2 separate regions of the Homo sapiens genome follow, and region 1 is linked to region 2. A link means that fine-mapping ties the variant in region 2 to the expression of a gene that starts in the linked region. Tissue or cell type: fibroblasts. Region 2 holds a variant in brackets; the other region holds the start of a gene. All regions are shown on one strand. Distances are from middle to middle.

Region 1 (15,546 bases), 26 kb before region 2:
GAGTGAAAATGCAACCTATGGTATGGGAAAAAATATTTGCAAGTCATATGTCTGATAAGAGGTTAATATCCAGAATATATAAAGAATGCCTACAACTTAACAACAAAAAATCAAGCAATTCAATTTAAAAAACAAAAGGCTGGGTGTGGTGGCTCACACCTGTAATCCCAGGACTTTGGGAGGCCGAGGTGGGCAGATCACCTGAGGTCGGGAGTTTGAGACCAGCCTGACCAACATGGAGAAACCCCGTCTCTACTAAAAACACAAAATTAGCTGGGTGTGGTGGCACATGCCTGTAATCCCAGCTACTTGGGAGGCTGAGGCAGGAGAATCACTTGAACCCCAGGAGACGGAGGTTGCAGTGAGCCAAGATTGTGCCATTGCACTCCAGCCTGGGCAACAACAACAAAACTCCGCCTCAAAACAAAAAGCAAAAGACTCAAACTTTCTGTAACTAAGATATATGAATAGCCAATAAGCAAATGAAAAGATGTTCAATATCCACTAACCATTAGGGAAATGCAAATAAAAACCTCAATGTGATACCATTTCACACTTGTTGGGATAACTACTATTAGACAAACAAGAAGATGAAAGAAAAAGAAAATAGCGTTGGCAAGTGTATTAGTCTGTTCTTGCACTGCTATAAATAAATACCTGAGACTGGGTAATTTATGAAGAAAAGAGGTTTAATTGACTCATGGTTCTGCGGGCTGTACAGGAAGCATAGCAGCATCTGCTTCTGGGGAGGCCTCAGGAAACTCACAATCATGACAGAAGGTGAAGGGGAAGCAAGCATGTCTTTCATGGCTGGAGCAGGAGGAAGAGAGGAAGTGGGGTGGTGCTACACACTTTTAAACAACCAGATCTCATGAGAACTTACTCACTATACAGTACCAAGTGGGGATGGTGCTGAGCCATTGATGAGAACTCCACCCCAATAATCCAGTCACCTCCCACCAAGCCCCACCTCCAACACTGGGGATTACAATTAGACATGAGATTTGGGCAGGGACACAGACCTAAACCATATCAGCAAGGATATCTAGAAATTAGAACCCTTGTGCCTTGCTGGTGGGAATGTAAAATGATACACCCTCTGTGGAAAACAGGAGGGCAGTTCCTTAAAAAGTTAGATATGGAATTTCCTTATGATCTAGCAATTCCACTCCCGGGTTTACATCCCAATGAACCCATAGGGGAAAAAAAGTTGACAATATCATATATTGAAAATGAGTTTTTGACTTTTTTTTTCTTTTGAGACAGAGTCTCACTCTGTCGCCCAGGCTGGAGTGCAGTGGTGTTATCTGGGCTCACTGTAACCTCCACCTCCCGGGTTCAAGCGATTCTCCTGCCTCAGGCTCCTAAGTAGCTGGAATTACAACTGTGTGCCACCATGCCCGGCTAATTTTTGTATTTTTAATAGAGACAGGGCTTCACCATGTTGGCCAGGCTGGTCTCAAACCCCTGACCTCAAGTGATCTGCCCGCCTCTGGCTCCCAAAGTTCTGGGATTGCAGGCATGAGCCACTGCGCCCGGAATTTGTTTTGTCTTTCTGAGATGGAGTCACCCAGGCTGAAGTGCAGTGGTGCGATCTCAGCTCACTGCAACCTCCACCTCCCAGGTTCCAGGGATTCTCCTACCTCAGCCTCCCGGGTAGCTGGGATTACAGGCACGCTCCATCATGCCTGGCTACTTTTTGTATTTTTAATAGAGACGGGGTTTCACCATGTTGGCCAGGCTGGTCTCGAACTCCTGACCTCAGGTGATCTGCCTGCCTCAGCCTCCCAAAGTGTTAGAATTATAGGCATGAGCCACCATGCCTGGCCAGAGTTTTTGACTTTTGGTATTTTCAACTTATGATGGATTTATCTGGACACAACCCCATCATAAGTTGAGAAGCATACTGAATGTCTATCACTTCCGCACCATTGTAAAGTGGAAAAATCATAAGTCAAGCCATCATAACTCTGGAATTGTCTGTATATCTGAAAAAATTGAAAGCAAGGATCAGAATCTGGCACACCAACATTCACAGCAGCATTATTCACAATTGCCAAAAGGTAGAAACATCTCAAATGTCCATCAGCAGATGAATGGATGAACAAAATGTTGTATATACATACAATGGAATATTATTAAGCCTTAAAGAGGAAGGAAGTTCTGACATGTGCTACAACATAAATGAACCTCAAAGGCATTATTGCTAAGTGAAATAAGTCACACACAAAAGGACAAATATTGCATAATTCCACTTATACGAGGCATCTAACATAGGCAAATTCACAGAGGCAGAAAGTAGAATAGCGCTTACCAGGGGCTAGAGGGAGGGGAAATAGGGAGTTACGTTTTAATGGACACAGTTTCTGTTTGGATAGATGAAAAAGTTATGGAGATGAATAGTGATGCTGGTTGCACAACAGTGCAGGTGTACTTAATGCCCCTGAGTTGTACGCTTAAACGTGGTTTACCTAGTAAATTTTATGCTATGTGTATTTTACACAACTTTAAAAAGATGAACTATGAGTTAAAAGCATTGGGTAAATAAGTAGAATTTCAAAAAAGCATTTAAAAAATTGTTTCCAAGTGTACTTTTCCAGAGTAGACTAGATACCATTGAAGTAAGAGAGACCCATCGATTAGAAAAGAGATAGGAAGGCAAATGAAATTAAAATGACCAGAGTTTAAAAAGGATTAGACAGAAAGTAATAAATGTGACAGGCAGGCACAGGAGATCCAATAGGCACATAATTCATGTCCCTGAAGGAGAAATTTGAATAGAACAGAAAATGTATTTACAGATGTAATTTAAAAAATTTTCCAGAGTTAAAAGTATGAATCTAAAAATTGAATGGGTACCTCGTGTCCAAGGAAAATAGACTCAAAAATATATTCTTGTAAAGTTATTGGACTTCAAAGATAAAGAAAGTATGCTTTAAGCAACTATGCAAAGTAATTAACTAAAAGGAGAAAATTAGACCGGCCTCCAAGTTGCCACAGCTATATTTGATATTTGAGGACAGATGGGTAAAGTCTATATAGTCTTCATGCAAAGAAAGTGTGACCCAAGAAATTTTTACTCAGCTGAACTGTACTTCAGGGACAAAGACAACACAAACATGTTTTTTTAATGTGCAAGAATTCAGGAAATATAGTTTCTACAACACTTTTTAAAAGATTCTAATAGAGGGTAGATGGAGAAAAGACACAGAAAGGACTGGTGATGACCATCAAATCCATTTAAAGATGCAACTAAGATGAAAACAAGCATGGCAATTATGGTTAAAGAACAAAATGTAGGCCAGGCGTGGTGGCTCACGCCTGTAATCCCAGCACTTTGGGAGGCTGAGGCAGGTGGATCACATGAGGTCAGGAGTTCGAGACCAGCCTGGCCAAAATGGAGAAAGCCCATCTCTACTAAAAATACAAAAATTAGCTGGGCATGGTGACAAGCCTGTAATCCCAGCTACTTGGGAGGCTGAGGCAGGAGAATCACTTGAATCTGGGAGATGGAGGTTGCAGTAAGTTGAGATTGAGCCACTGCACTCCAGCCTGGGTGACAGAGTGAGACCATGTCTCAGAAAAAAAAAAAAAGAGCAAAATATATATGTTATAAACTCTGACAGTGAAGGAGTGATATAACCAACAAAAGTTGAATGAGAAAGAGCAGAAGATAGGAAATAGGTCAAGTATGCTGGTGATATAGTTTGGCTCTGTGTCCCCACCCAAATATCATGTTGAATTGTAGTCCCCATTGTTGGAGGTGGAGCCTCATGAGGGGTAATTTGATCATGGGGGTGGTTTCTAATGGTTTAGCACCATCCTCCAAGTGCTGCCTCATAGTAGAGTTCTCACAAGATCTGGTTGTTTGAAAGTGTGTAACACCTCCCCTTTCTCTCTCTCTCTCTCCCTCTGCTGCCAGCCACGTGAAGATGTACTTGCTTCTCCTTCACCTCCTGCCATGATTGTAAGTTTCCTGAGGCCTCCCCAAGCATGCTTCCTGTACAGCCTGTGGAACTGTAAGTCAGTTAAACCTCTTTTCTTTATAAACTACCCAGGCTCAGGTAGTTCTTTATAGCAATGTCAAAACAAACTAATACAGCTGGTTTCCTGAATGTTTAGAGCTGGTGACCAGAATATATTATTTAAAGATGGTAAATCAAGCACAGAGGTCTAAATATATTTAAAGGCATAAAGGTAAAGCTTAAAAACAATCTAATCCCTAAGTTGGGCGGTATGAAGAGAGGATATATGCTGATTCCATCATGTTTATGGAAAGGAGTGAAAAAGGCCGGGCACGGTGGTTCGCACATGTAATCCATGCACTTTGGGAGGCTGAGGCAGGTGGATCACTTGAGGTCAGGAGTTCAAGACCAGCCTGGCCAACATGGTGAAACCCTCTATCTGCTAAAAATACAAAAATTAGCCGGGCTTGGTGGCATGCACCTGCACTTCCAGCTACTCGGGAGGTTGAGGTGGGATAATCACTTGAATCCAGGAGGCAGAAGTTGCAGTGAGCCAAGATCGTGCCACTGCACTCCAGCCTGGATGAGTGAGATCCTGTCTCAAAAAAGAAAGAAAAGAAAAGAAGGAAGGAAAGGAAAGAAAGGAAAGAAAGAAAGGAGTTAAAAAAATACTCTCAGGAAGATCCTAGGAAAAAGTGCAAACCATGACAAGAGCATCTAACTGTATTGCAAACATATGAAACGATATCACTGAAGGGGTGGAGGGCAAAGGTGCTGATTTGGTAACTTTGGAGTAAATGAGGTCTATAAAGCCAAAAGCAATAGGAACTGCAAAAAAGCATGGTACTCTAGTAGGTAAAGTTGTTTCCCACAAAAAAAAAATGACATATAATTATGAGGTAAACAATTCTGAAACTGCTATACATGTACACTGGAATCAAACAATTGCGCAAGTGGATGGTGGAAAATGGGAGCCTGAATTCTCACTGATGGAGTAGGAATTTACCAATAAAAAAAGGAGGTTAGAATAATCCATCTGGTAATGGACTAGAGTTGCAGACATCAGCAATATCTCACATTTTAGTCAATATAGATTCAGGTGATTACATATAGAAATATTTGCAGATATGTAACATACACAGATAAGTATACACACATATATTTATGTGCTTTGTCAGCTGAGAGGGCCCAAAAGAAACAAAGCCCCAGTAGCAATAAGCATGCCAGGACCTATATCTTGGATTCCAATATTATTCTACAATAAAAAGAACCTTGGATTCTTGGAGAAATGGCAGATTCTGAGACTTGGGCAGGAAATATACAAGATTAGCTCAGAATATTGTGCAGTGTCAGAAAATAGACAAGTGCTAAACAAGAAAAACACACATTGATGAGGGTCCGTCAGAGAAGCAGAGGAGCTGAAAGATCTCCCAACGGCCAAAGCGGGAGCCATCTGAGCAACAAAATAAAGTAATATTGGATTATAACCCAAAGTATAAAATAAATACCCACCAGTCCACACTGATAGAAACAAATGATTGAATCAGTTACTAAATGGGAGAGAAGAGACAAACCTGTGCAGAATTTCAGATTACTTATATAGATACTGCATTGAATTCATGGTGATTAATTCCAGTACCAGAAGAAAAACTGGCTGTTTTGGAGTTCCTGAGAAAATATCTATTTTCTTCAACATGTCACCTTCCTAAAATGTTTTCAAGGGTAGTTTTAACTGTTTTTGACTTTTTCCTTATGTGCTGACTTCAGAGCCTCAGCCTGAAGAAGGTGGGATTTCGTGGCCTTGTCTGCCTATAGAGCCCACTACAGGGCCATACACAAGGCAAGCCTTCTTGCTTGCATTTAAAATAGTCATAATGGTGCTTTATGCGGTGCCATGTGGTGTGATGTTTCTGTAATCATTTAGTGCTGAGACTGATAAATTTATCAGTCACTGGTGCCAGTTCAGCTGACACCCTCCACCTTCTTCCCAAACAAACCTCCTCCTTCCCACCTCCTCCTTCTCTCTCAGCCCCAATGATGACAAGCTTCTGATCATTGCCTGAAGCCTCTGCCTTGACCTATTGCATTCATGCCCACCATCAAGCCCAGTTTAAACCCGTGCCTCCTACTGATACCTCCTGCTAGGGTACTAGTGATTTACTATTCTTTAAGACAGAAGTGACCCGAAACCCAGCTCTCCCAGGATAGCTGCCAGGACCTGGCCATGATTCAAGCCCAAATAACATAAGCCAAATTACACACTCAGTGAGGAAGGCATTTTTTTCAAGTCCCCACCCTTGTGTGAGTGAAGGTGGAACAAAGATTGTGTGACCATGTTGTTCAAACACAGGAAAATGACTGCATTCCCTCCCCTTAGTTTTCATTTGTTGATTCTTCTCCAAGCCCTGACTTCCAACTGTACTTCTTTTTTGATGCTGCCTCTTGCTTAGAGGATTCTGAAGGGAAGGACAGGGTAGTATGCTGTTCTAAAGAGTATGGGACTTTATCCTGTAGGCATGGGGAGCCACTGAGCGGTTTTTAAGGTGGTCAGCTTCCTATTTTTGTCTTTGGAGGTAAGTTCACTCTGAAGGCCAGCCAATGGCAGGGCAAGGCACCCACTGTCCTCTCCAGGAAAGCAGTGGCCATTCTGGGCACACCTAAGTCAATCCAAAGCTGAGAGGGGCAGGAACTGATGTGATCTTAGGATGCCGAGACACTAGAATATAGCCAGATACACAAGGTTCAGATGTTCTGGCCTTACAAGCAAATTGTATTAAATCAGCCATGCTTCCTAAGCTTCGTCCCACCTTGGTAAACATAAAAAATAAGGATATCTGTACAACTCACTGGGATCAACTTGCGTGAGCTTGGATAATTCTAAAAGGAGCTTCATGGATAATAATTATTTACATTTCCTTTATATGGTACTCTTATAAAAAAGAAAAAGAAAAACAAAAAAATAAATGACATATAATTATGAGAAGAAAAATAAAAGCAAATCTTGGGGTAGATTTAAATATCAACTTTGGGTAAAATTTCCTGATAACATTCTTCTTGGAGTCTCTTTTAAATATCAAGTTTTGTGTTAAAAATAGTTCCTGATCATTGCTCCTGCACATAGTTCTTGATCAAGATTTTTTTTTTTTTTTTTTTTTTTTGAGATGGAGTCTCACTCTGTCACCCAGGCTGGAGTGCAGTGGTTTGATCTCGGCTCACTGCAACCTCCACCTCCCGGGCTCAAGTGATTCTCTTGCCTCAGTCTCCCAAGTAGCTGGGATTACAGGCACCCACCACCACACCTGGCTAATTTTTGTATTTTTAGTAGAGACGGGGTTTCATCATGTTGGCCAGGCTGGTCTCGAATCCCTGACCTCAAGTGATCCACCCTCCTTGGCCTCCCAAAGTGCTAGGATTAAAGGTGTGAGCCACCACGCCTGGCTGATCAAAATCTTTTTAAATGATCATCTCTTTAATTTTTGATAGTTACCATGGAGAAAAAACTTTTTTTTTTTTTTTTTTGAGTTGAAGTCTCACTCTGTCACCGAGGCTGGAGTGCAGTGGCTCACTGCAACCTCTGCCTCTCGGGTTCAAGCAATTCTCCTGCCTCAGCCTCCCAAGTAGCTGGGATTACAGGCATGCGCTGCCACATTTGGCGAATTTTTGTATTTTCAGTAGAGACGGGGTTTCACCATATTGGCCAGGCTGTTCTCGAACTCCTGACCTCAAGTGATCCACCTGCCTTGGCCTCCCAAAGTGCCTGGAATACAGGCATGAACCACCGTTCCCAGCCAAAAAGCTATTTGATACAAGAAGTGATGATAAAATGTAAAGCCATCGGCTATGAACCAATGGGAAAAAAAAGAAAAAAACACACAATAAAAAATCAAAAGGAAATAAAGACAATAAAAGAAACAAAAAAGAGCCATTTTTTTTCTGTTCGTATAGTTATGTAAGATTTTGTATAGAAGTGTATCATGCATGTATGTGTGACCACACAGCCTTGGTGTGCCACTGGACCAATTTTCACAAACACCCAGTACCAGCACCCAGTACTAGAGTTCTAGATCAGCCTAGCCAACATGGTGAAACCCCATCTCTACTAAAAATACAAAAATTAGTGCAGCCTGGTGGCTCAGGCCTGTAACCCCAACTACTCCAGAGGCTGAGATACAAGAATCGCTTGAATCTGGGAGGCAAAGGTTGCAGTGAGATCACCCCACAGCACTCCAGCCTGGGCGACGGAGTGAGACCCTGTCTCAATTAAAAAGAAGAAAAGAAAAGAAAAAGAAAAAAATAGTTGCTTCTCAGTTTGATGATATGCAGTCACTCTCACAAATCAGTAATTTATGCGACAATAATCACGGAAAATATACTGCTTAGGCTTATAAATATTTAAACAGATAAACATACTTTTTTTTTTTTGCAAGACCTCCCTCAGTCCCCCAACCCACTTTTTTATTTGACACAGTTAATAATAAATGATTTCTTAAAAGTAGAATACTTTTTTTTTTGCTTCTAGTATCCTGAAAATAAAGAAAAGAGTACATTTCAAGAAAACAAGTTGAAAAATTAGTCACAATAAAATGAAAGGCGATTGATCTAATTCCCTGATGTACACTCTAAGGACATACAGCTCTGTTGAAGGCTCACTGATTTACAGGGGAAAATATCTAGGATATACCACGAATAAAAAGAAGTCTAATATAATTTTTAAAGAGAAATATGCAAATACACCCTGAACTGAATTTCTTCTCAAAGTTCATTACAGCAAGAACTCCATTTTCCAATTCAGTGGTACATTCTCTCTAGGCTGCAAAAAATGCTGTGGACAAAATGACATTTGGAAAAGGTATCTTTAAAGATACCTTTAAGAGCAATAGTCCCCTTATGCCATTTACGCTCACATAAGAGACTGGAATAGCAAAGCACTATGAACAGTAATGAATGTTGTAAAACTCCCTGGTGAGGCTTAATCAATACTGCCTATAGCCGTGTCCACCGGAAGAAGCTCGTTCTCTGTGAATTCTAGTGGGAAAGAATGATTGAATGATGAACACGTTTTCACTGGTTGCTCTATCAGATACTTAAAAGTTTCTGGGAGGCCTTGCCTTTTTTACCCGAGGAAGAAGTGAAAATGCGTCTTGCACAATTGCTTAACTATTCCCAACGCAAGACTTCTTTATATCATTTATTTCCCTTGTATTACTGGCGCGGAAACTTGGGTGTAAAAGTGATCACAAAGATTACATGGGGCCAGGCGCGGTGGCTCACGCCTGTAATCCTCTCGGGAGGCTGAGGCAGGAGAATCGCTTGAATCCGGTAAGGTTGCAGTGAGCCGAGATCGCGCCACTGCACTCCAGCCTGGGCGATAGACAGAGACTCTGTATCAAAATTATAATAATAATAATAATAATAATCCGAGCCTGACCAGTCGCCCCACAGCGTCAAGGTGAAACCAGGTGACCGCGACTACAGCGTTTAATAATGGGTCCTCAGGCAAAAACTCCACGGATGGGAACCCCGCGCCTCTGAAGCTGCCTAACGAGGCGGTCTCCTGGTGGCGCCTGCCCCGCCAAAGGAGCAATGAGGGGGCTGCGTTTAGGCGAAGCCGGTATTGGGCGAAGCTTCTGGATCAGTCAGGGGCTCAGAAGGGACGTCTGTGGGAGAGGGGTCAGCACGGTATCCAGACCCCGCCCGGGGTGAGGTTGGTACTGAACTGACTGAGGGGCATGGAACCCCCACCCTCCACCCTGGTAAGGTGCCGGGGCCAGTTTGGGCCGGGACTCCTAGAATTTGAATCGGGGGTGGTCTAACGCTGTCGCCTGCGGGGTGTGCAGGAGGCCCCTAGTGAAGCCAAGAGTTCGTAGAGCCTGGGCGCCGCTCTATGCTCGGCTCTCGATTGCTCACGCCTGGCAGCGGCGAGCGGCGCACGCGACGGCTGGGGCTCTGCGCTCGAGGGGTCGAGCCTGGGCAGTACAGGCGGCGGTGCGCACTCTGCGGCGGCCTCTGCGCCTCGGGCGGGCGGGAGAGAGAGGCCGCGGCCGCCAGCGTGGGGATGTCTAGGAGCTCGAAGGTGGTGCTGGGCCTCTCGGTGCTGCTGACGGCGGCCACAGTGGCCGGCGTACATGTGAAGCAGCAGTGGGACCAGCAGGTCGGTGTCACGTGACCGTCTCTTCCGGGCCCGCGCGCGCGGCGTCGACCTGGGGCCTCTCGTGGTCTCTGCCCGCTCGGTTCCTCAGCTCCTCTTCGTGTCTTTCCCCCGCGGTGGCGCGGCCCTGCACCCCACGCGTTTGCGGCTGCGGCCGGCGGCCGCTCTGCTGGGCTCCGGGCGCTGCAGCTCCCGGCGGGCGTGTGCAGCCCGCAGATTCAGGACGACCCGGCTGCCCGGCTTAGCGCCTTTGGAGCTCCGCGCTGAAGGGGCCTTGCTCCGCACAGGCACGGCACGCAAGCTTTTGGGGTGCCCAGTGGCTCTGTTTTCAAGTCACAGCCGGCCCGCAGGGTGCGGACCTTTCCACATCTCACTTGGGCCGCTAGAAAATAGAAGGTGGGGAAGGAGTTTCTTGGGGTGCATTCTGCAAGCTACCAGCCTCCCTCCTGGCCCAAGGTTGGGGTTAAAGCCTAATGTGTTTTACGTGCTATTGATTTTATCCCATGGTAAGGGAGCCCCCCTTCCCCGTACTCACTCTCCATGCCTTTGACCAAGATAATTTGGTGAGATGTTTGCACTTCTCGTTTAAATGAACAGTTTGCTATGGAAACTAGAATCTGGGAACGATAGAGATAACAGTCTCCAGATTTTTTTTTTTGGTACTTTTATTTCAGGAAATATCCGTGACCTGCTGATCAGCAGTGACTATTCTGTCCTCTCAGTTCATATTTTCTTTCTTATTCAAGTTGACAGACCTTTAATGGGTGATTACTGTGTGGAAGCTACCTCACTAAGCACCTTGGGAATACAAAGATAAGGAAACTCCACTCTTCCAGAGTCTATCAGTGATTCACGACCTTGCTGAGAACAGGGTCATTGGTGAATTTTCAGAAAACAACTTGGCAGTGATTGGGGTTGAACCTAGTTCACCAAGGGTGAAAATAATGGACTGGATGAATCAAGAGTAAACAGTCTTTTCTTGATTTGCCTACCCAGACCTTTGGACTGTGCTATGTGCTTGATATACAGAGATGAAGTGGATGAGGTCTTTGTTCTTGGTGTTCACAGACTGTGGAAATTAGAAGAGAGGAAGCATGTGATGGTACAAGAATTTTGACGAGGGGTTGAGATGACTTAACAATGAAAGGGCACAGGAGAGATCAGAGATTTGGGATTAAAATGTGCTCCTAAGGGGCTGGCTTTTGGAATAGAGGCAGAAGACTTCCGCCTCTTACAAGGAAAAGTAAAAGATGTTGATCCTGGGAAAACTTGAGATGGAGTAAAATTTAGTATGACAGATGATCTGACGTCAGTGAAGTGATGTTTGAAGGGTTTGGGTAGGGATGGATTAGAGCTTGGCTTTGGACCCTAACTGAACATCAAATGTTCCCGGAAAGTTTTTACAATGTGACTAAGGCTTGGTCCCCACCCCAGACCATTTAAACCAGAATCTCCTGGGGATGGGGACCTGGTTCAACAATGTTTTAAAAGTAACCCAGAGAATTTTAACACAGGACTAAGCACCATTGTGTTACAGAGTGGAAAAGTGGTTATTTGGAAGTTAGAGCTGAAGAACCAAAATAACGTGTGTGTGTGTGTGTGTGTGTGTGTGTGTGTGTGTGTGTGTTTATTTTTTTTCCTTTTATGTCCGGTTCTTCATTAGGGGCTTACATTGTATTAATAGCAGTGGGAAAGACTAGGACAAATGATTAGCACAGTGGATGTGTCGGAAGGTTCAAGGAAGCAAGAAATTAAATAATGAATATTGATTCCTGACCGTCTACCACATACCAGGCAGTGTATTAAGCACTTTATGTATATCATCTGTAATCCTCACAGTAACCTAGCAAAAATTAAGCAGTGCTACATGAGGAGCCAGAGTTCTAGGTGTTAGGGTTGGAAGAATAAAGAGGTCTTTAGTGATTAGTAAGGAAAGTTGTTAGAAAGGTAGTTCAGTGAGGGTCACAGGAAGGATGTGTGAGGCAATCAGCATAGACCTTGAAACCTAGAGGAAGATAGCAAATGATGGGATGGAGAGCCAGATCATAAGCACACGTGACATCTCTGAGAAGGAAGGGTAGGATCTGGGAGGCAGGTGTGGAAGGAATGATTCTGGTGAATGGTGTGGGCTTGGGAGGGTGGGTATCGGTGTGTCATGGTGTAAGAAGCACAGGACAGGAAGACCTGCAGTTGGGGGAGTGGAATAAGCACCTCCGTTTTTGTCTCAGTGGTGATCTTGCCAAGGGTGCATGGTTCAAGACAGTTGTGTTTCAGTTGAGTTATATCAATCCCGGGACTCCTTCAAATCCCTCATAATGAAGCTGTAGGCCTGGAGGAGGTCCAGCAAGTAGGTATTATATTAGGTGAGTTTTTAAAAATAGGTAAAATAATTTGGAAAAAACCCCACAAACATACGCAGGCCCTGGGCCCCACTCCCATTAATTCTACTCTATATAGCCACTATTAAAAACCATTTATTGGCCAGGCACGGTAGCTCATGCCTGTAATCCCAGCACTTTGGGAGGCTGAGGCAGGCAGATCATTTGAGGTCAGGAGTTCGAGACCAGCCTGGCCAACGTGGTGAAACCCCGTCTCTACTAAAAATACAAAAAAATTAGCCAGGCCTGGTGGCGCACGCCTGTAATCTCAGCTACTGGGGAGGCTGAGGCACAAGAATCGCTTTAACTCAGAAGGTGGAGATTGCAGTGAGCTAAGATCGTGCCATGGAGCCAAGATCTCCAGCCTGGGTGACAGAACGAGACTCCTTCTCAAAAAAAAAAAAAAAAAACCAATAAAACAAAACAAAAAAAACCCTATTTATTTATTTTGAGATGGGGCTTGTTCTGTCACCCAGGTGGGAGTGAAGTGGCACAATCTTAGCTCACTGCAGCCTGTGCCTCCCAGGCTGAGGTGATCCTATCACCTCAGCCTCCGGAGTAGCTGGGAACACAGGCACACACCACCACTCCCTGCAATTTTTTTTTTTTTTTTTTTTTTTATTTTTATTTTTGCTAGAGATGGGATTTTGCCATGTTGCCCAGGCTGGTCTAGAACTTCTGAGCTCAAGCAGTCTGCCTGCCTTGGCCTAAGATTACAGGAGTGCTGGGATTACAGGAGTGAGCCACCACGCCTGGCCTAAAACCTTTAGAGTATTTTGTGAGCAATAAACTATAAAATGTTAGTTATTAGTAATGACTGATGTTTTTAAAAGTCTCTTCTTGGGTGCCAGGTCCACGTTCTGAAGTGCTGTGGTTTTTTAGTGCTTACTAAGGTAACTACCATTGATGAGCATTTATTTTTTCCGCTGGTAGTAGCATCCTTCTTTTTCTTCTTTCTCTGTTATATAATTAATTAATAATTCTGCATGATTTTTACATTGTTAACTTTACATGCTAGAAGCCAAGTTGAGATTTTAGTAATCTGCATTTTTTCTGTTGGTGTTTATTGTTCAGCTAGGATAAGTGCTAACAGAAGAGTAGTTTAGAGTGTTACTGTAGTAACTCGCCAAGTTTTTAAAGCATTACATATCAATTAAACTTTAAAAATTTAACATTGGCCGGGTGCAGTGGCTCACGCCTGTAATCCGGCACTTTGGGAGGCTGAGGCAGGTGGATTACTTGAGATCAGGAGTTCGAGACCAGCTTGGCTGACGTGGTGAAACCCCGTCTCTACTAAAAATACAAAAATTAGCTGGGCATGGTGATGCACGCCTGTAGTCTCAGCTACTCGGGAGGCTGAGGCCGGAGAATCACTTGAACCCAGGAGGTGGAGGTTGCGGTGAGCTGCGGAGTGCAGCCACTGCACTCCAGCCTGGGCGACAGAGCGAGACTCTTGTCTCAAAAAATAAATAAAAAAAAATTTAACATAGTGCCAGTTTTTTTTTTCTGTTATTTCCCATTAAATTTTCTGTACTAAATGTTCAGGAATTTCTTAAAATATGATAAGAAATCATTTCAGTAATAACATTTAGCACACTACCAAATTTATTTGATCGTTTATTACATTTTACATTTGTACAGAAAATTAAAATAGTAACTGGGTATTTGGAATCTGAAAGTTTTAAGTATATTTTGGTAACACTGTTATTTGGATTTGAATGGCACAAGGATGGGGACCACCTGTTCGGGATGTTACTGAAATCTGTTTCTTACGTTTTTAGAGGCTTCGTGACGGAGTTATCAGAGACATTGAGAGGCAAATTCGGAAAAAAGAAAACATTCGTCTTTTGGGAGAACAGATTATTTTGACTGAGCAACTTGAAGCAGAAAGAGAGAAGATGTTATTGGCAAAAGGATCTCAAAAATCATGACTTGAATGTGAAATATCTGTTGGACAGACAACACGAGTTTGTGTGTGTGTGTTGATGGAGAGTAGCTTAGTAGTATCTTCATCTTTTTTTTTGGTCACTGTCCTTTTAAACTTGATCAAATAAAGGACAGTGGGTCATATAAGTTACTGCTTTCAGGGTCCCTTATATCTGAATAAAGGAGTGTGGGCAGACACTTTTTGGAAGAGTCTGTCTGGGTGATCCTGGTAGAAGCCCCATTAGGGTCACTGTCCAGTGCTTAGGGTTGTTACTGAGAAGCACTGCCGAGCTTGTGAGAAGGAAGGGATGGATAGTAGCATCCACCTGAGTAGTCTGATCAGTCGGCATGATGACGAAGCCACGAGAACATCGACCTCAGAAGGACTGGAGGAAGGTGAAGTGGAGGGAGAGACGCTCCTGATCGTCGAATCCGAGGATCAGGCATCAGTGGACTTATCGCACGACCAGAGTGGGGATTCCCTCAACAGTGATGAAGGAGACGTGTCTTGGATGGAGGAGCAGCTGTCCTACTTCTGTGACAAGTGCCAAAAATGGATACCAGCCAGTAAGGAGCTTCTCAATTCCTTTGATTTGTCAATTCCTGTGTGAAGGTTTGTTTTTCCAACCTGTGAAAGAAACGTGAATGTAAAAGAGACCTAAATAAAAGGATAATTATATTTATTCTCTAGTTGATCAGCTATAAATTTATATAAAACATAGGCATGTTTGTACTAATGAAACGTACTGTCAACCTCTATCACATTGTTAAATTAACACTTTTGGTGGTAACTCAATAAAATTGAGAAAATTGGAAATCCTGTGTTACTTAAAGAATTAGCCATATTTTTCTAACAAGGTCACAGAGATTTAGGGCCAAATTCCAGTCCCAGTGTTGAATTCATGTTCAAGTTTATAAAAATTACTTTGTTAATATTTAACTTACGTGGAGAACTCCTGCTATTGTATACTGAAAAGAGGTTAGAATTAGCAGATTGAAGGTGTTTTTTGCCCTTTTTCTAGGACCAGTCTTTTTTTCCATTTTCCTTTTTTTCTGCTGGCAAGAGATACCTCATACACACTCCCTGATTGCCTCAATCTTGAGATTTTCTTTTCTTTCTTTTTTTTTT
Region 2 (15,546 bases):
GAGTGCTGTCCTATTTAGTGGGTTATCTCCTGGAAAAAATTAGATTTAGATTGCCTGTTTTTAAAAATATTGCTGGATTTTAACAGAAGTTGTTTAAATGCTTCATTTGTTCATTTCTAGAGCATGTTCTGAGAGGAATCAGCTGAGCCTTATTTCTTTTTAACATGCCAATGAAAGGCATTAATTACTCTCCAGTTTCTGTGTAGTTTATTTAGTGTGTTGGCCATATTGGTATATCACCGGAATTATTATTTATTTGATCTTCCTATTTAAATCAAGTCACCTGAAAAATACATTAATTTTAAAAAGAAACTTAACATCACCATGGTAAGTGGGAAACCTATATAAATTGTCATAAGTAGAATGTAACAATAAAAATAAAACAATGCTGTTAAATTGTAGCTGGATCCCATGGCATATAATGGCAAGCCATGGCTTTCTTTTCCAGTCAAAAAGGGAGGCTGCTACAAGTGTTAATGAGAATTTAAAGCAGTAAACTTTCTTTTGATCTAACCAGAAGAAGCAAAAGAGAATTAGAAATCACTTTATGATTCTTGCCACCCGGTTTCATGCTACAGTGCTGCTCTTCACTTTGGGAACTCCACTTGAAATATCAGTGATTGGAGAAGTCCCCTGAAACCACTACCCCTGGGTAGTTACCACTTGCTCAGACATTTCTGTGTATGAATGTTAACAAGATTACCGTACCCCAGAGAAGCTGTCTGTAAAGAGCATTTATATTTAAGGTACACTTTTTTCATAGCTACTAAAGATTTTCATTCTGCTATCCATAGGACGTACTTTATTTATTTACTTACTTACTTATTTTTTTGAGACGGAGTCCTGCTCTGTCGTCCAGGCTGGAGTGCAGCGGCGTGATCTCGGCTCACTGCAACCTCCGCCTCCCAGGTTCAAGCAATTCTCCGGTCTCAGCCTCCGGAGTAGCTGCTACTGCATTAAGAACTAAAATTGACCAGTATTAACCGCAGTCTACTGTCTATGCCTTCCCTTGGAAACCACAAGCCTTTATTAGACTCCAGAGTCCCAAAATAGTTCCATCAGTCAGATTCTGCCAGTGCAACTGCTGTCCAGGCAGGAAGGCAAATGCTTCCTATCTGCCACCTTCCCAGAATCCTCGTAAAGTTGATTGAAGTGTAGATACTATGAATGTGTACTATCATATTTCATCAATTCTAAGATCCATTAACTTTAAGATACACCATTTTGTGTACAAATAAGAGCTAACTACCAATTAAATTATGACATATCAGTAACTATAAGATGTATCTAGCTGTCAGAGATGTCAAAATTTGCAAAATTACGTATCTTAAAATCAGTAAAATATGGTAGTAGAAGAAAATATTCAAGCTATTCTTCACTAATCAAAACTATACCTTCTGGAAGAATTCAAGGCCAGGACTGTAAAAGCAGATTAAATGAACAAATACTAGGCAATTATTCAGTAATAACTAAGTTTTCATATACTTTTTAACTTGTTTCTACAATGGTACATAAAATTATTTAGGTTAGCACACCCCACCATGCACGACTAATTTTTGTATTTTTCGTAGGGACAGGGTTTCACCTTATTGGTCAGGCTGGTCTTGAACTCCTGACCTCAGGTGATCCACCCGCCTGGCCTCCCAAAATGCTGAGATTATAGGCGTGAACCACTGCACCTGGCCAGGACATACTTTAAATTCTTAAAAATTGTAACCATTTCTCATTTGTCACAAGATCTAAGAGAATGCTATACAGTGTAATGAAGTTCTGAATTTTCTTTCAGATGTTTACAGGTTTTTCTTTTATGCCTTTAATATGTTATTAAAGTTTAAATGTAAAAAGGTGGGGGTTTTTTTGGTGCTACCCATCCCCCTTCTCCAGCCACTAGGAAGAAAGCTGTGTGTGTGTTCCTGGAGTGGCTTACACACAGCTTGTAGCATCCAGGGTGGGCAAAAATAAGCCTGTTTTCCAAATACTGGGTATTTGTGCTCTGATCACTGATTGCTGCTTCTAATCATAGAGGTGAAAAGAGATGGCAGCCATTGTTGTTATAGCTCCCCTCATTGCAAAAATGGGTAAAGGCATTTAATAGACACTTCTTCAAAGATATTAAAATGGCCAATAAGCACATCAAAAGATGCTCAGCATCACTAATCATTAGGGAAATGCAAATCAAATCTATAACACGATACCACCTCATGCCTCTTAGGATGACAATTATCAAAGAAACAAAACAACAACTGTGGGCGAGAATGTGGAGAAATGGGAACCCTTTTGCAGTGTTGGTGGGAATGTAAAATTGTACAATCGTTGTGGAAAATGGTGTGGTGTTTCCTCAAATAGTTAAAAATATAATGATCATATGATCTGGCAATTTCACTTCTGGGTATATACTCAAAAGGACTGAAAGCAGGGTCTCAGAGATACTTGTATATCCATGTTTTTAGCAGCATTATTCACAATAACTGAGATGTGGAAGCAACCAAAGTGTCCATCAGTAGATGAATGGATAAGCAAAATGTGGCATATACATACAGTGGATATCATTCAGTCTTAAAAAGGAAGGACATTCTGGCACATGCTGCAGTGTAGATGAACCTTGAGGACATTATGCTGTGTGAAACAAACCAATCACAAGAAAACAAACACTGTGTGATTCCACTTATCTGAGATACTTAGGGTAGTGAAAATCACAGATACAGAACGTAGAATGGTGGTTGTCAGCACTTGGCGGGGAGGGTGGAATTGGGAGTTGTTTAACGGATATAGAGTTTCGGTTTTGCCCTGTGAAAAGTGTTCTGAAAGTGGATGGTGGTGGTGATTGTACCATATAAATGTACTTAATACCACTGAACTATACTGTTAAAAATTGTTCAGATAGTAAATGTTATGTATATTTTACCACAATAATAATTTTGGGGGAAAACTATTGAGGCCATTCATAAATACTGTGTTTGTATATGTCCTGGCAACAAATTTATTCCATTCCATACAAATGTCTCATTATGTGTTGTGCTGTGATTTAGCTGGCTATATTAGTTTGCTAATGATGCTGTAACACAAACTGGATGGCTTAAACAACAGAAATGTATTCTAGTTCTAGAGGCTGGAAATCTGAAATCCAGGTGTTGATAGGATTGGTTCCTTTTGAAGGCTGTGAGGGAGAGAGTATTTTATGCCTCTCCCCTAGCTTCTGTTAGCCACAGGCCTTCCTTGGCTTGTAGATGACGTTCTCCCTGTGTCTTCATGCATCTTCCCTCTCTACACGTCTGTCTCTGTGTCCAAGTTTCCCCTTTGTGTAAGGACACCAGTCATATTGGATTAGTGTTCAACTTAATGACCTCATGATCACTGTTTGCACATAAGGTCACATTCACAAGTACTGGGACTTCCAACATCTTTTGGGAGGATACGATGAAATCTGTAACACTGGCCGATAATTTTATAAACATTTATGTTATTTCCAGTTTTTCTGTGTTTAAGTTAGCCTTGTGGGGCATATTCTTGTATATATATCCTTTGTGTTTTTGTGATTAGAAGTAGATTTGCGAGGTCAGAGGATACACACAATTTTGCTGTACATTATGAAAGTAACCTCCAGAAAGTATATGCCCATTTATAGTCCCACTGTCAATGTACAAGTACGCACCCGTTTTCGACACAGTAAATAACACATTGGTTTTTAAAATCTTTTGAGTCTTTGTCAGTCTTTTTTATTGTTTTTGTTTGTTTGAGATAGGGTTTCACCCTGTCACCCAGGCTGGAGTGCAATGGCACAGTAATGGCTCACTGCAGCCACTACCTCCCAGGCACAAGTGATCCTCCCACCTCAACCTCCCAAGTAGCTGGGACCACAGGCACGTGCCATCACACCCAGCTAATTTTTTTATTTTTATTTTTTTGTAAAAATGAGGTCTCACTATGTTGCCCAGACTTCTGTTTGTTTATTGCAGTAAAAACAGTGAAAATTTACCATCTTAACCAGTTCCAAGTGTACAGTTCAGTGGTGTTAAGTATGTTCACGTATTTGAATATAGATTCACAGATGGCCAGAACTCTTCTCAGCTTGCAGATCTGAAACTCTATCCCTATTAAATAACTCTCCATTCTCCCCTCCCCACAGCTCTAGGCAGTCACCATTCTACTTTCTGTGTCTATGAATTTGACTACTCTAAATACTTCATATATGTAGAACCATACAGTATTTGTCTTTTTGGGACTGGCTTATTTCACTTAGCATAAGTGTCCTCAAGGGTTATCCACATTGCAGTATGTGATAGGATTTCCTTTATTTTTAAGACTGAATAATATTCTATTGTATGTGTTTATGCTACATTTTGTATTTATTAGAGAGGATTTGGAAAGATTAGAAAAAGATAAGAATGTAGGAGAGGTACTTTGGAACCAAAAGCTTGGGGGTTTCATTCTCTCCATCTCAGATAGTGCTTTTTTTGAGACCCAGTTTCATTCTTGTTGCCCGGGCTGGAGTGCAATGGTGCAGTCTTGGCTCACTGCAGCCTCCGCCTCTCGGGTTCAAAGATTCTCCTGCCTCACCCTCCCGAGTAGCTGGGATTACAGGCATGTGCCACCACACCCAGCTAATTTTGTATTTTTAGTAGAGACGGGGTTTCACCCTGTCAGCCAAACTGGTCTCGAACTCCTGACCTCAGGTGATCCACCCGCCTCGGCCTCCCAAAGTGCTGGAATTACAGGCGTGAGCCACCGCACCCAGCCTCAGATAGTGCTTATGCCTACTATAGCTGAGCTTATTTGTTTTGTTTATTTTCTGAGTTTTCTATTAATATTACGTCTCTGTTCCTCAGAATGGTTTTCCTTTGCCTTCCCAGCAATACCTTCCAACTGTTAGACTGGTCTTCTTGTGAAAGACTGTCTTCTAGGATTTCCGGGGATTGATGTATCTTTTCAAGGTGGAAATAGAACAGTCGCCTTGAAAGAATTTCCGTTAGGGAACCCGGATAGTTGGCATTTTGCATGTTTTGTTATTTTGTTGTGCAGTAGGTGCTCTCTGTGTTTGTGGAGTATACCACATAGTTTTGTTACCACTCTAGTGCATCGAGGCAGATAGGATCAGATTGAGAGATGTGTGCTACTCCTCGGGTAAAATGAGGTATTTACTGGAGCCAGTTAACTTCTATCACAAAATGCCCAGCCTTGGAGTTACACTTTTTGTATGCTTTATTCTTGGGAGCTGTGCTTAATTCACATAACAAAGCAACTTAATTAAAATTAGCCTGTAGAATTCCATAATCGTGATGATTGTGATGAGAAGTATTTCACGTGCTTTGTTTGAATTATTGCATTTAATCCTCACAGCAACCCTGTGAGGTAAGTTCTATTATCCTGATTTTACAGATGAACAAACCGAGGCTGCTAGAAGTTGGTAGCGCCAGGGTTTGAAGCAGGCGAACTCCAGAGCCTCTCTCCTGCCTCTCGTGCTCTGCTCCTTCAGTAGCTGGAGGTGCCATTGCATGTTGCAGGCCAGGAGTCACAGTATACACAGACTGTCTTTTCTGTATAATGAGCAAAAGTGCCAATCATTTTTAAATTCTTGGACTCTTTAGGAAAAAGACGTCTACCTGGTGGAGCACCGTGGCAGGTTGCCTCAGCGTGGGAAGTCCCATGTACTTCCGTTCAGGTGCTCAGGAATTTGGAGAGCCAGGATGGTGGAAACTTGTTCATAACAAGCCCCCAACGATGAAACCTGAAGGAGAGAAGTTGTCTGCCTCTACTTTGAAAATAAAAGGTACTGTTGTGAGAACAGTACAAAAGTTGCTAGTCAGACCAGAGCCAAGCAGGTGTGAGCCCAGGAGACGCTCCTGCTTCCACTGGGCATGGCTCGCAGGCCTCTCTGGAGCTACTCTGTTTAACACTTCTGTGATGACACTTGTGTGTGTGCTAGAAATAAATGCCACATAAAAACATTTTATCACTTCCTAATCAAGCTATCAGTTTTATAAATTTCCCAGGGTATCTGAAAGGTTCAATGTTTTCCATCTGGTTTTTGTTTTTAAACTTCTCACAAAGGTGAAGAGATATTTTAAAATTCCCGTAATAAATAACATGATGAATTCCCATGTACCTTCCACCTCACTTTGACATTAACTCCTGACAGTCTCATTTTATCTAAATCCTCAGTACTTTTCCCCAACCTTCCCCATTCTTACAATTGGATTATTTAGAAACAAATCCCAGGAATCAACATTTCATTCCTAAATATCTTAGT[A/T]TGTATCTCTAAGAGATCAGGATTCTTTCCTTTTTGCAGCCTGACCATAATGCCATTTTCATATTTAAAAAGATGTTAACAGTGACTTCTTACTATCACATATTGATCTGGTTTTATAATCTAAAAAGCTTTTAATGAGCTTTTAAATTTTTATATTTATTTGTTTGCTTGTTTGTTTATTTATTTGAGGTACAGTCTCGCTTTGTTGCCCAGGCTGGAGTGCAGTGGTGCAATCTTTGCTCACTGCAACCTCTGCCTCCTAGGTTCAAATGATTCTCGTGCCTCAGCCTCCCAAATAACATGCCACCATGCCCAGCTAATATTTTTGTATTTTTATTACAGACGGGGTTTTGCCATGTTGGCCAGGCTGATCTCGAACTCCTGACCTCAGGCGATCCACCTGCCTTGGCCTCACAAAGTGCTGGGATTACAGGGTGAGCCACCGGATCAGGCTGATGAGCTTTTAAAATTTTAAAAATATGATTGGGAAGAAAATCAAATAGTACTTAAGGGTGTAAAGTATGAAAGTTCCCCCACCTGCCTATGGCCTGCAATTTCACTTCCCAGAGTAACCACTGTTGTCTTTTGTGAATACTTTCAGAAAGATCTCTGCAGATTTAAGCATTTTCTTAGTTTTTTAAAAAAGTAAAATGGACTCGTACTATTATGAGTTTTCCATTTTTGCCACACTTACCAGTATGTCTTGGACATCTTTCCATGACAGTACATGTAGATTTACCCTATTTTATTTCATTACATCCATTATATAATTATGTGATAATTTGTTAAACCATTCTCCTGTTGATGGACATTTTGGTTGTTTCTACCTTTTTGTTGCTATTTTATTTATTTATTTTTTAATTAAAACATTTTTAAAAAGTAATAGAGATAGGGTCTCGCCATGTTTCCTGGGCTGGTCTTGAACTGTTGGGCTCAAGTGATCCTCCAGCCTCTCCTTCCAAAAGTGCTGGGATTACAGGCATGAGCCATCATGCCTGACCTTTTGTTACTTTAAACAGTGCTACAATTCTACAAATTTGTGTACATGTGAAAATGTGATAAATTCCTGGAGTTTCTACATCAAAGGGCATATTCATTCAAAATTTTAATCAGGATTGCCAAATTATCCTCCAAGAAACTGTAATAAGGCCGGGCATGGTGGCTCATGCCTGTAATCCCAGTACTTTGGGAGGCCGAGACAGGTGGATCATCTGAGGTCAGGAGTTCGAGACCAGCCTGGCCAACATGATGAAACCCCATCTGTACAAAAATACAAAAATCAGCCGGGCGTGATGGCGCATGCCTGTAATCCCAGCTTCTCTGGAGGCTGAGGCAGGAGAATTGCTTGAACCCGGGAGGCGGAGGTTGCAGTGAGCCGAGATCACACCACTAACATTCCAGCCTGGGTGACAGAGCAAGACCCTGTCTCAAAAAAAAAAAAAAGTACCCATTGAAATGCCCATGAAAATGCCCATTTCCCCATACATTTACTGAGCTTTATCAAACTTTTTTTTTGGCTCACTGCAGCCACCACCTCCCAGGCTCAAAATCCACCCACCTCAGCCTCCCAAAGTTCTGGGATTAAGAGGCGTGCACCACCACGCCTGGCTAAACTTTTAATGTTTGCCAGTTCCAGTAGGTGAAAGATAGTATTTATTTGTTTAAATTTGCAGTATAACTTCTTTTTTCTCAAGAGATATCTAAGTCTTTTTTAGTTTAGGGCATTCATTGAACATTTCTCTTTATTGAACATGATATTACTCATAATAATAAATTAGCAAAAGAAACTAAAGTTGAGTAGTTATTTTAAAATTTAGATATGGGTTGAGCAATCCAAATCTGAAAATCCAAAATCAAAAACACTCCAAAATCTGAAACTTTTTCAGCACTGACATAACGCTCAAAGGAAATGCTCATTTGCAGCATTTCGGATTTTGTATTTCTGGGTTTGGGATACTCAGCCAATAAGTAAAATGCAAATATTCCAAAAGCCGAAAACATCTGAAATCCAAAACATGCTTGTGCCCAAGCATTTCAGATGAGGGATACTCAGCCTGTATTTATTCTTTCTTAGCAGCCTCAAAACCAACTTTAGATCCCATCATTACTGTTGAGGGACTTAGAAAACGAGCAAGTCGGAATCCTGTGGAATCTGCCATGGAATTAAAAGAGAAAAGGTCTCGAACTCAGGAAGCAAAAGACATTAGAAGAGCCCAGAAGGAGGCCGCTGGCTTTCTTGACAGGAGCACATCTTCTACCCCTGTAAAATTCATAAGCCGAGGCCGCAGGCCAGATGTGATTCTGGAAAAAGGCGAAGTGATTGACTTTTCCTCCTTGAGCTCCTCTGACCGCACCCCGCTGACAAGCCCATCTCCTTCTCCTTCTCTGGATTTCTCTGCCCCTGGTACACCTGCCTCTCATTCTGCCACACCTAGCTTGCTTTCAGAAGCAGATCTGATTCCAGATGTGATGCCCCCACAAGCCTTGTTTCATGGTAAGAGTTTGTTTGCTTTGCTCTTTTATTTTGGGTATGGGCCATGGTATAAATGTACAAGTTTTCACCCCGTGGGCTGTGTGCTCTGCATTTCTTCCTTCCTATGTCTTGATGACACTGTTTTGTACTCTGCACAGATGACGATGAGATGGAAGGCGATGGAGTCATAGACCCAGGGATGGAGTACGTCCCACCCCCTGCTGGGTCAGTAGCTTCTGGGCCAGTGGTTGGGGTCAGAAAGAAGGTCAGAGGCCCTGAACAGATAAAGCAGGAGGTAGAGAGTGAGGAGGAAAAACCCGACAGGATGGATATTGACAGTGAAGACACAGATTCAAACACATCTTTGCAAACAAGGGCTAGAGAAAAGAGGAAGCCTCAGCTGGAGAAGGACACAAAGCCGAAAGAGCCCAGGTATACTCCCGTGAGCATCTACGAGGAAAAGCTGCTGCTCAAGAGGCTGGAAGCTTGTCCCGGTGCTGTTGCCATGACTCCGGAAGCTCGGAGACTGAAACGCAAACTGATTGTCAGACAAGCGAAAAGGGATAGGGGATTACCACTTTTTGACTTGGATCAAGTTGTTAATGCTGCTCTTTTGTTAGTTGACGGGATTTATGGAGCCAAAGAAGGAGGAATTTCCAGACTTCCAGCTGGACAAGCCACGTACAGAACCACCTGTCAGGACTTCAGAATCCTTGACCGATACCAGGTGAATGCAAGCACTTGCTGTAAAGCCCTTGGGGGCAGGAGTGGAGGTGGGGCAGGCAGCACTAGGCATTGGACATGGTTATGCTGTGACCTTTTAAATCCTGAGTAATTTGGGAAGAGAAAAGTAAAGTGCAAGGGAAAAAAATACAAAAATCGCTGGGCTTTATTTTTCAGAATTGTTCATTGTAAGTACACCTGAATACATCTGAGTTTTTCTTTTCCTTTAGGCATTCAAACATAACCTATAAGTTTTCTTCATCTGTCTCTCTTGTCTCTCTCTCTCTGAGGATAGATATGCATGGTTTGTGTCGTAGCTTTGACAAATTTGTTGAGGCCATGACGGTGTCTCTGACACTGTGTTGCAGAGGATCTGAAGGTGTGTAGACATCTGCGAAGGACAACATGAAGAAATAGCAGCCAAGGGATCAGTGTGGTATCAGTGTTGCTCAAAGGATGGTCGGTGGAACCCAAATTTTGTGGATGCTTCTGGGAACAATTAATTCCACTTAGAACTACCTGTATATACTCTCCCACTGGGAGGAACAAGAGGCCTTATTCCCTTTATCTTTGCTAGCACTTGACACTAACCAGCCTTTAAGTTTTGCTAATTGGCTGGCTGTAAAGTGAAATCTTGTTTTTTATTTATATTTCTTTGGTTACAGGTGAGGTTAAATTTCCTGGTTGTTTCTTTGTGAATTGCCTGTTTGGAGTCTGCATGTTTTTCTCTCTTCTCTGGAAGCTAGTGGGATCTGCTCTTCATTGCTGGTGTTCTGGTATTATTCAGTGATGTGCCGTATGTAGGGCTTATGTCTTTCCTTGTGCTGGACATGTGGTGTGTGGGCCCTTTCAATTTGAAACTTTCTTTCCTGAGTATGGAAAAGTCTTGATTTCCTATCTTCTATTTTTTCTGTTCTCTCATTTTAGAACTCCCCATTATTTGGATATTGGACCCTGTAGATTAAAAGTTGGCAAACTTTATCTGTAAAGAAATAAGTATTTCTGCCAGATAGTAATTATTTTAGGCTTTGCCGGCCACAAAATCTCATTCGGAACTCTTCAACTCTGCTGTTGTGATTGGAGAGCCGTAGTGAATGAGTGTGGCTGTGTTCCAGTAAAACTTTATCTACTAAAATGGGCAGTGGACTGGATTTAGCCTGGGGGCTATAGTTTACCAAGATCCCTACTCCAGATAGATCCTCTTTTCTTTTTTTTCCTAATTCCCATCTTTCCTGGGAAGCACAGTATTAACTGGCCTGCCTACCAGGAGCCAAGTCGGGAGGGCCCAGGAGCCCATCGTTTAGGAGGTAAACTGACTCTCCCTGTCTTCAGTACAGTACTCCCACCCTTGGCTTCCTGTGTCCAGAATCTCCCTCTTGAGCCTCTCCAGTCTTCTGCCCGTGGAGGGAAAGATCATTTCCTAGATGTGGGCAGTATAATTACTATAGGGGTATAATTGGAGCCTTTAACCTCTTAAAGAGCCTCACAATCCATAGTCATACCCCCCAGGCTCTAAGCCTGATGCCTTAGGTGACTACACTTCCCTGAGGCTGTGTTTTGTAAATCACCCTGCTTAGCTTCACCACTGGCTTAGGTATTGGCTTTCTTTGGTCTGTTAAGTCATTTGCTGCTTGTTCATATGCTTTTGTTAGTCATCTATTCACTTGTTCTTGTTCTTTTTTTTTTTTTTTTTGAGACATGGTCTCTCTCTGTCACGCAGGTTGGAATGTAGTGGCACAACCACAGCTCATTGCAGCCCCGAACTCTCAGGCTCAAGCAATTCTCCCACCTCAGCTTCCCAAGTAGCTGGTACTATAGGCACACACTACCACACTCAGCTAATTTTTTTTTTAATTTTTATTTTTAGTAGAGACAGGGTCCTACTATCTTGCCCAGACTGATCTCAAACTCCTGGGCTCGAGTGATCGCCTCAGCCTCCCAAAGTGCTGGGATTACAGGCATGAGCCATTGCGCCTGGCCAATATTCACCTGTTCTTTGTTCTTATTCTTGTGGGCCTGTCTGTTTACTGCCTATACTTAATTTTTTAAATTGTAAGATGTGTCATACAGATAGAAGGCAGCATAGAAATATGGTATAATTTAGATATTAGTAAAATAAATGCCCATGTATTCATCTCCTGGATAAAGAGTGTTGTAAACACCTTAGAAGTCTCCTGTGTACTTTCTGTTCCCCTCAGAGGAAGCCACTTTGACTTACAGTGTTAATTATTCTTTTGCTTTTTAAATGTGTATGTCTCTAAATGATATACTTTTCGTTTAAAAAAATACTGAGTAGCAAGCATAAATCTAGCTGTGTAAGTAAATTGCCACTATTAGATGAAGTTTCCTGGAGAAGATAAGCTAAATAGTCATTCTGGGTCATTGTTGTGGACTGAATTGTGTCCCCCTTAAGCATATGTTGAAGTCCCAACCCTGGTACCTATGAATGCAGCCTTATCTGGAAATAGGCCCTTTGCAAATATAATTAGCCAAGACCACCAAGGATTGCCGGCAGCACCAGGAGCTAAGAGAAGGGCACAGAACAAATTCTCCCCTAGTGCGTACCCCAGAGAGCATAGCCCTGCCCACACTGTGACTTCTGACATTTGGCCTCTAGAACTGTGAGACAATAAATTCCTGTTGTTTTAAGCCACCCAGTTTGTGGTGCTTTGTTCCTACAGCCCTGGGAAACTAATACTTACAGTGATGTTCTGGCTTCGGCTTCCATGAACCCCTTCTGAGGTAGTCACTGGCCAAGGTCACTAGGGAGTCCTGGGAAACATGAGGCTCACCATAGCGTATGCATCAGCCAGGGCTGTGATGTATACCAGAGATGCGGCAGAAATCTGGGCAGAGGAAGTGGGATCCTCTGTATTTCCTGCCTGAGCTGACAGCTTCCTTCCAGCTTGCAGAAGGTCAAAGCAGTTATTTGTGGAGTGAGCATCATCAGCTGGTCTTTGGGGTGGGCATGGGTGGTGTACAGGAGGCTCACCTGTACATGGTGAAGACAAGCTGAGCGTAGATAAGATTCTGGGCCACGACGCCATAGGTTTAAAAGATGGTCAGTGGCAGCAAGGACTTAAGGATGATAGCCTCAATATGTGTTAGAAATACCAAAATTGTTAGAAATAGATAATCGGTGCTGCGAAGAAAAGTCAGCACAGAGACAAAAGGTATCTCAGCAAGGCCATCTTTTCTTTCTGTAGAAAGGGTGCTCAGTTGCAGATGGAACAAAGGTGAGAGCACACTTGAACACAGGAAAAGCAGACATATTTATCCCTTACGCACTTGGGTCGTCCTTACTGCTGTGTCCTGCATCCACTGGCTGGAGCGGGACCTCACAATCTTAAACTGATACCCGATTTGCTAATAGCCTAAAACTTTCCTAAATAGGTAAGTGCAGGGAAGAACAAAGAAGTTGCTTACAAAAGGTTTAAGGAAGCAATAACATTTCCAAATAAGGAAGGGGCGTAGACTGTGGGCTGGAACGTGCCTGTGAGCATGTCCAACGGTTACAGAGGATAGGGCTTAACAAAGAGTTATTAGCACAAGGCAAGGAGACTTGAAGAAAGTTAGTCTTTAAAAGAAACTGTTATTTCTAACACTTATGATTTATTCTTTAACAAGAAGGAAAACTTTGAAGAGGAAACTTTTTACTTTCTACACTATGTCTGCCCCTTGGGTCACACTTGTTCACCCTTTGTTGTGAAACTCAGCAGGGGTGTTGGGATCTCCCCTCTCTGGAGATTCTTTTGCCCTCCTCTGTATTTGATCTCCTGTTTCCTGTGGCCCATCTTTACCTTGTTATAGGTTTATTCCCTTGTTCTTAATGACTTCCTGAGAAAAGCTGCATGGGAAGTAAAATTTGAGACCAACATACTGAAAAGACCCTCATTAAGTGAGGTTGAACCTGGAATTCCATACACAGCCACATTGTCTAGGTGAGACCTCTGTTGAGGACCACTGCACTTCCTTTAGGTTTTTTCTTTGAATCTAGTCAGAGTCCCTGGGGAATAATCTTCTGGGCTCAGGATGCTGGTTGCCAAGTTGGGGAAGAGGGACCTTAGCATTCAGCTTGTCAGGTACTCACACCTCAGCCCTCCAGCTGGATCCCCTGTTAGTTCTCTAGAGATCAGACCTCCTGGCTTCTGGGGGAGGGCAGCCACCCAGCAACAGGGAGTGGAAGGATCTGGGGATCATACTGCTTTCCACATGGTGTTTGCCTGCTCCTTATTTTATTGTCCCATTTGGTCCCAGTTCCAGAGGAATCTGCTGGCTGCTGCCTGGATTTTAGCGGGTTCTGTAGTATAGATTGGGTTAGTTCTCATTTAGCTTACCCAAAGCCACTTTGGGATTTTGGTGTTAAATCAGTTACTATTTGTCCATCTGTTTACCAGTTACTGTTCTAATTAAGTCAGCTTCTATAGTTTTAGTGGGATTTTGGGAAGTAGTAAAGCTTTATATGCTTGTGTTTTAACCCAGTCTTAACTTGGAATTTTAGTATAAATTTTAATGTATTTACACAGGGAGTGGCTGTAAATGCATTTATTCAATCCATACTCTTGTTTTATATTTATTCTTTGAATGTATTCGTAGCTATAAGTTTCTCAATAAGTGCTGCTTTAGCTGTGATTCTTGACTTTTGAAATGATGTGATTTTATTTCCAATCAGTACTTGGCATTTTGTTATTTTTCTCATTATTTCCTCTTTAATCCAAAGGTTATTTAGTTGTTTTTTGGTTTTCAGATATATGAGAATTTTAAGCTATGTTTTGGTAATTGATGTGATTTCTAATGTTGTATTATGATCAGAGAAAATAGTTTATGTGATGTTCATTCTGTACCATAAAGAAAGTTATACATTCTATTTTTATTCTTTTTATAGGTCCTAACTTAAGATACATTTATTTTTCCTTATTCTTTTTTTAATATCATGTGGTTGTCCCCCCAAACAAAAAAGTACATTTTCATGCACTTATCTCTTTTTTTCTTTTGTATTGCTTATTTAAATGACATAAATCTTTACTAAATTATTCACTCGTCCTATTGTTTCTTTCTAGATTAATTTCTTGCTGGACTGCTTTCTCTAACAGTTCTTTAAAAATATGGGCTTTTTGAGGTTAATTTTGAAAACTTATACGACTAAGAATATCTTCATTTCACTTTTTCATTTAAATGATAGCAGTCATATAAAATTGTTATTTTAGTTTTTTCCATTGATATTTTGAAATTATGACTTCATTATCATCTTACATACAGTGTCACTCCTGAGAACCCCGGTACTGATAAGAAATAGAAATTTTTGACTGGGCTCAGTGGCTCATGCCTGTAATCCCAGCACTTTGGGAGGTCGAGGCAGGCAGATCACTTGAGGCCAGGAATTTGAGACCAGCCTGGACAATATGGTGAAACCCCGTCTCTACTAAAAATAAAAAAATTAGCCAGGCCTGGTGGCGCATGCCTATAATCCCAGCTGCTTGGGAGGCTGAGGCTTGAGAATCACTTGAACCAGAGAGGCAGAGGTTACAGTGAGCTGAGATCATGCCACTGCACTCCAGCGTGGGTGATTGGGTGAGACTCTCTCTCAAAAAAAAAAAATTTTTTTTGTTTCTTATCAATTAAGTGGCCTCCTTGTTTTATTCTCCCATCTCCTAAAACTTTCAGAATTTTCTCTTTGTTTTTTATCTTTAATTAGTGCATGTTAAGTGTCTTTTATTTTCTCTTTTTAAAGCTTTGTTTTCTTTTTTCTATTATTTTATTTTCCAGCACATCCAAAACACAGAAATTGTGTTTGTTCTCATTTGTCTTACTTGACAACTCTGTTCTTTTGGTCAGAGGTATTTTATATGCTTCTTGGCATTTATTCTGCTTGGTGTTCGCTGACCTTCCTGAATGTGTGGTTTGGTGTCTGACATTAAATTGGGGATATTCTCAGTCATTATTGCTTCAAATTTTTCTTCTATTCCTTTCTGTCTTCTGGTATTCCCATTGTGTGTTTATTACACCTTTTGTAGTTTTCCGCAGTTCTCGGATAGTCTGTTTTGTTCTTTTTTTTCATCTTTTTTGTCTTTGCTTTTCAGTTTTGGAAGTTTTTACTGACAGA

Alleles and levels. Alleles are on the strand shown, and positions count from the first base shown. SD is a standard deviation of normalised expression in the study named.
In carriers of allele A in region 2, the expression in fibroblasts of the gene that starts at base 9,928 in region 1 tends to be lower than with T alone (small effect, 0.19 SD a copy in GTEx).

The links.
Region 1: KAT14 starts here. The variant in region 2 is fine-mapped to the expression of KAT14 in fibroblasts (GTEx, PIP 0.99). The same link has a PIP of 0.9 or more in esophagus muscle.

The regions. Positions count from the first base shown.
Region 1 is chr20:18,127,936-18,143,481 of GRCh38, forward strand. KAT14 (lysine acetyltransferase 14) reads left to right here and starts at 9,928. Exons shown (of 11, transcript NM_001392073.1): 1 at 9,928-10,116; 2 at 14,273-14,984. The coding sequence starts at 14,726. PET117 (PET117 cytochrome c oxidase chaperone) reads left to right here and starts at 9,928. Exons shown (of 2, transcript NM_001164811.2): 1 at 9,928-10,116; 2 at 14,273-15,234. The coding sequence starts at 10,021. The coding sequence ends at 14,422. RefSeq lists a silencer at 10,297-10,416.
Region 2 is chr20:18,153,499-18,169,044 of GRCh38, forward strand. KAT14 (lysine acetyltransferase 14) reads left to right here. Exons shown (of 11, transcript NM_001392073.1): 5 at 5,586-5,767; 6 at 8,325-8,741; 7 at 8,879-9,447. Among named protein-coding and RNA genes, the nearest start is that of PET117, 23 kb to the left of the region's middle. The variant A/T (reference allele first, on the strand shown) is at 6,248.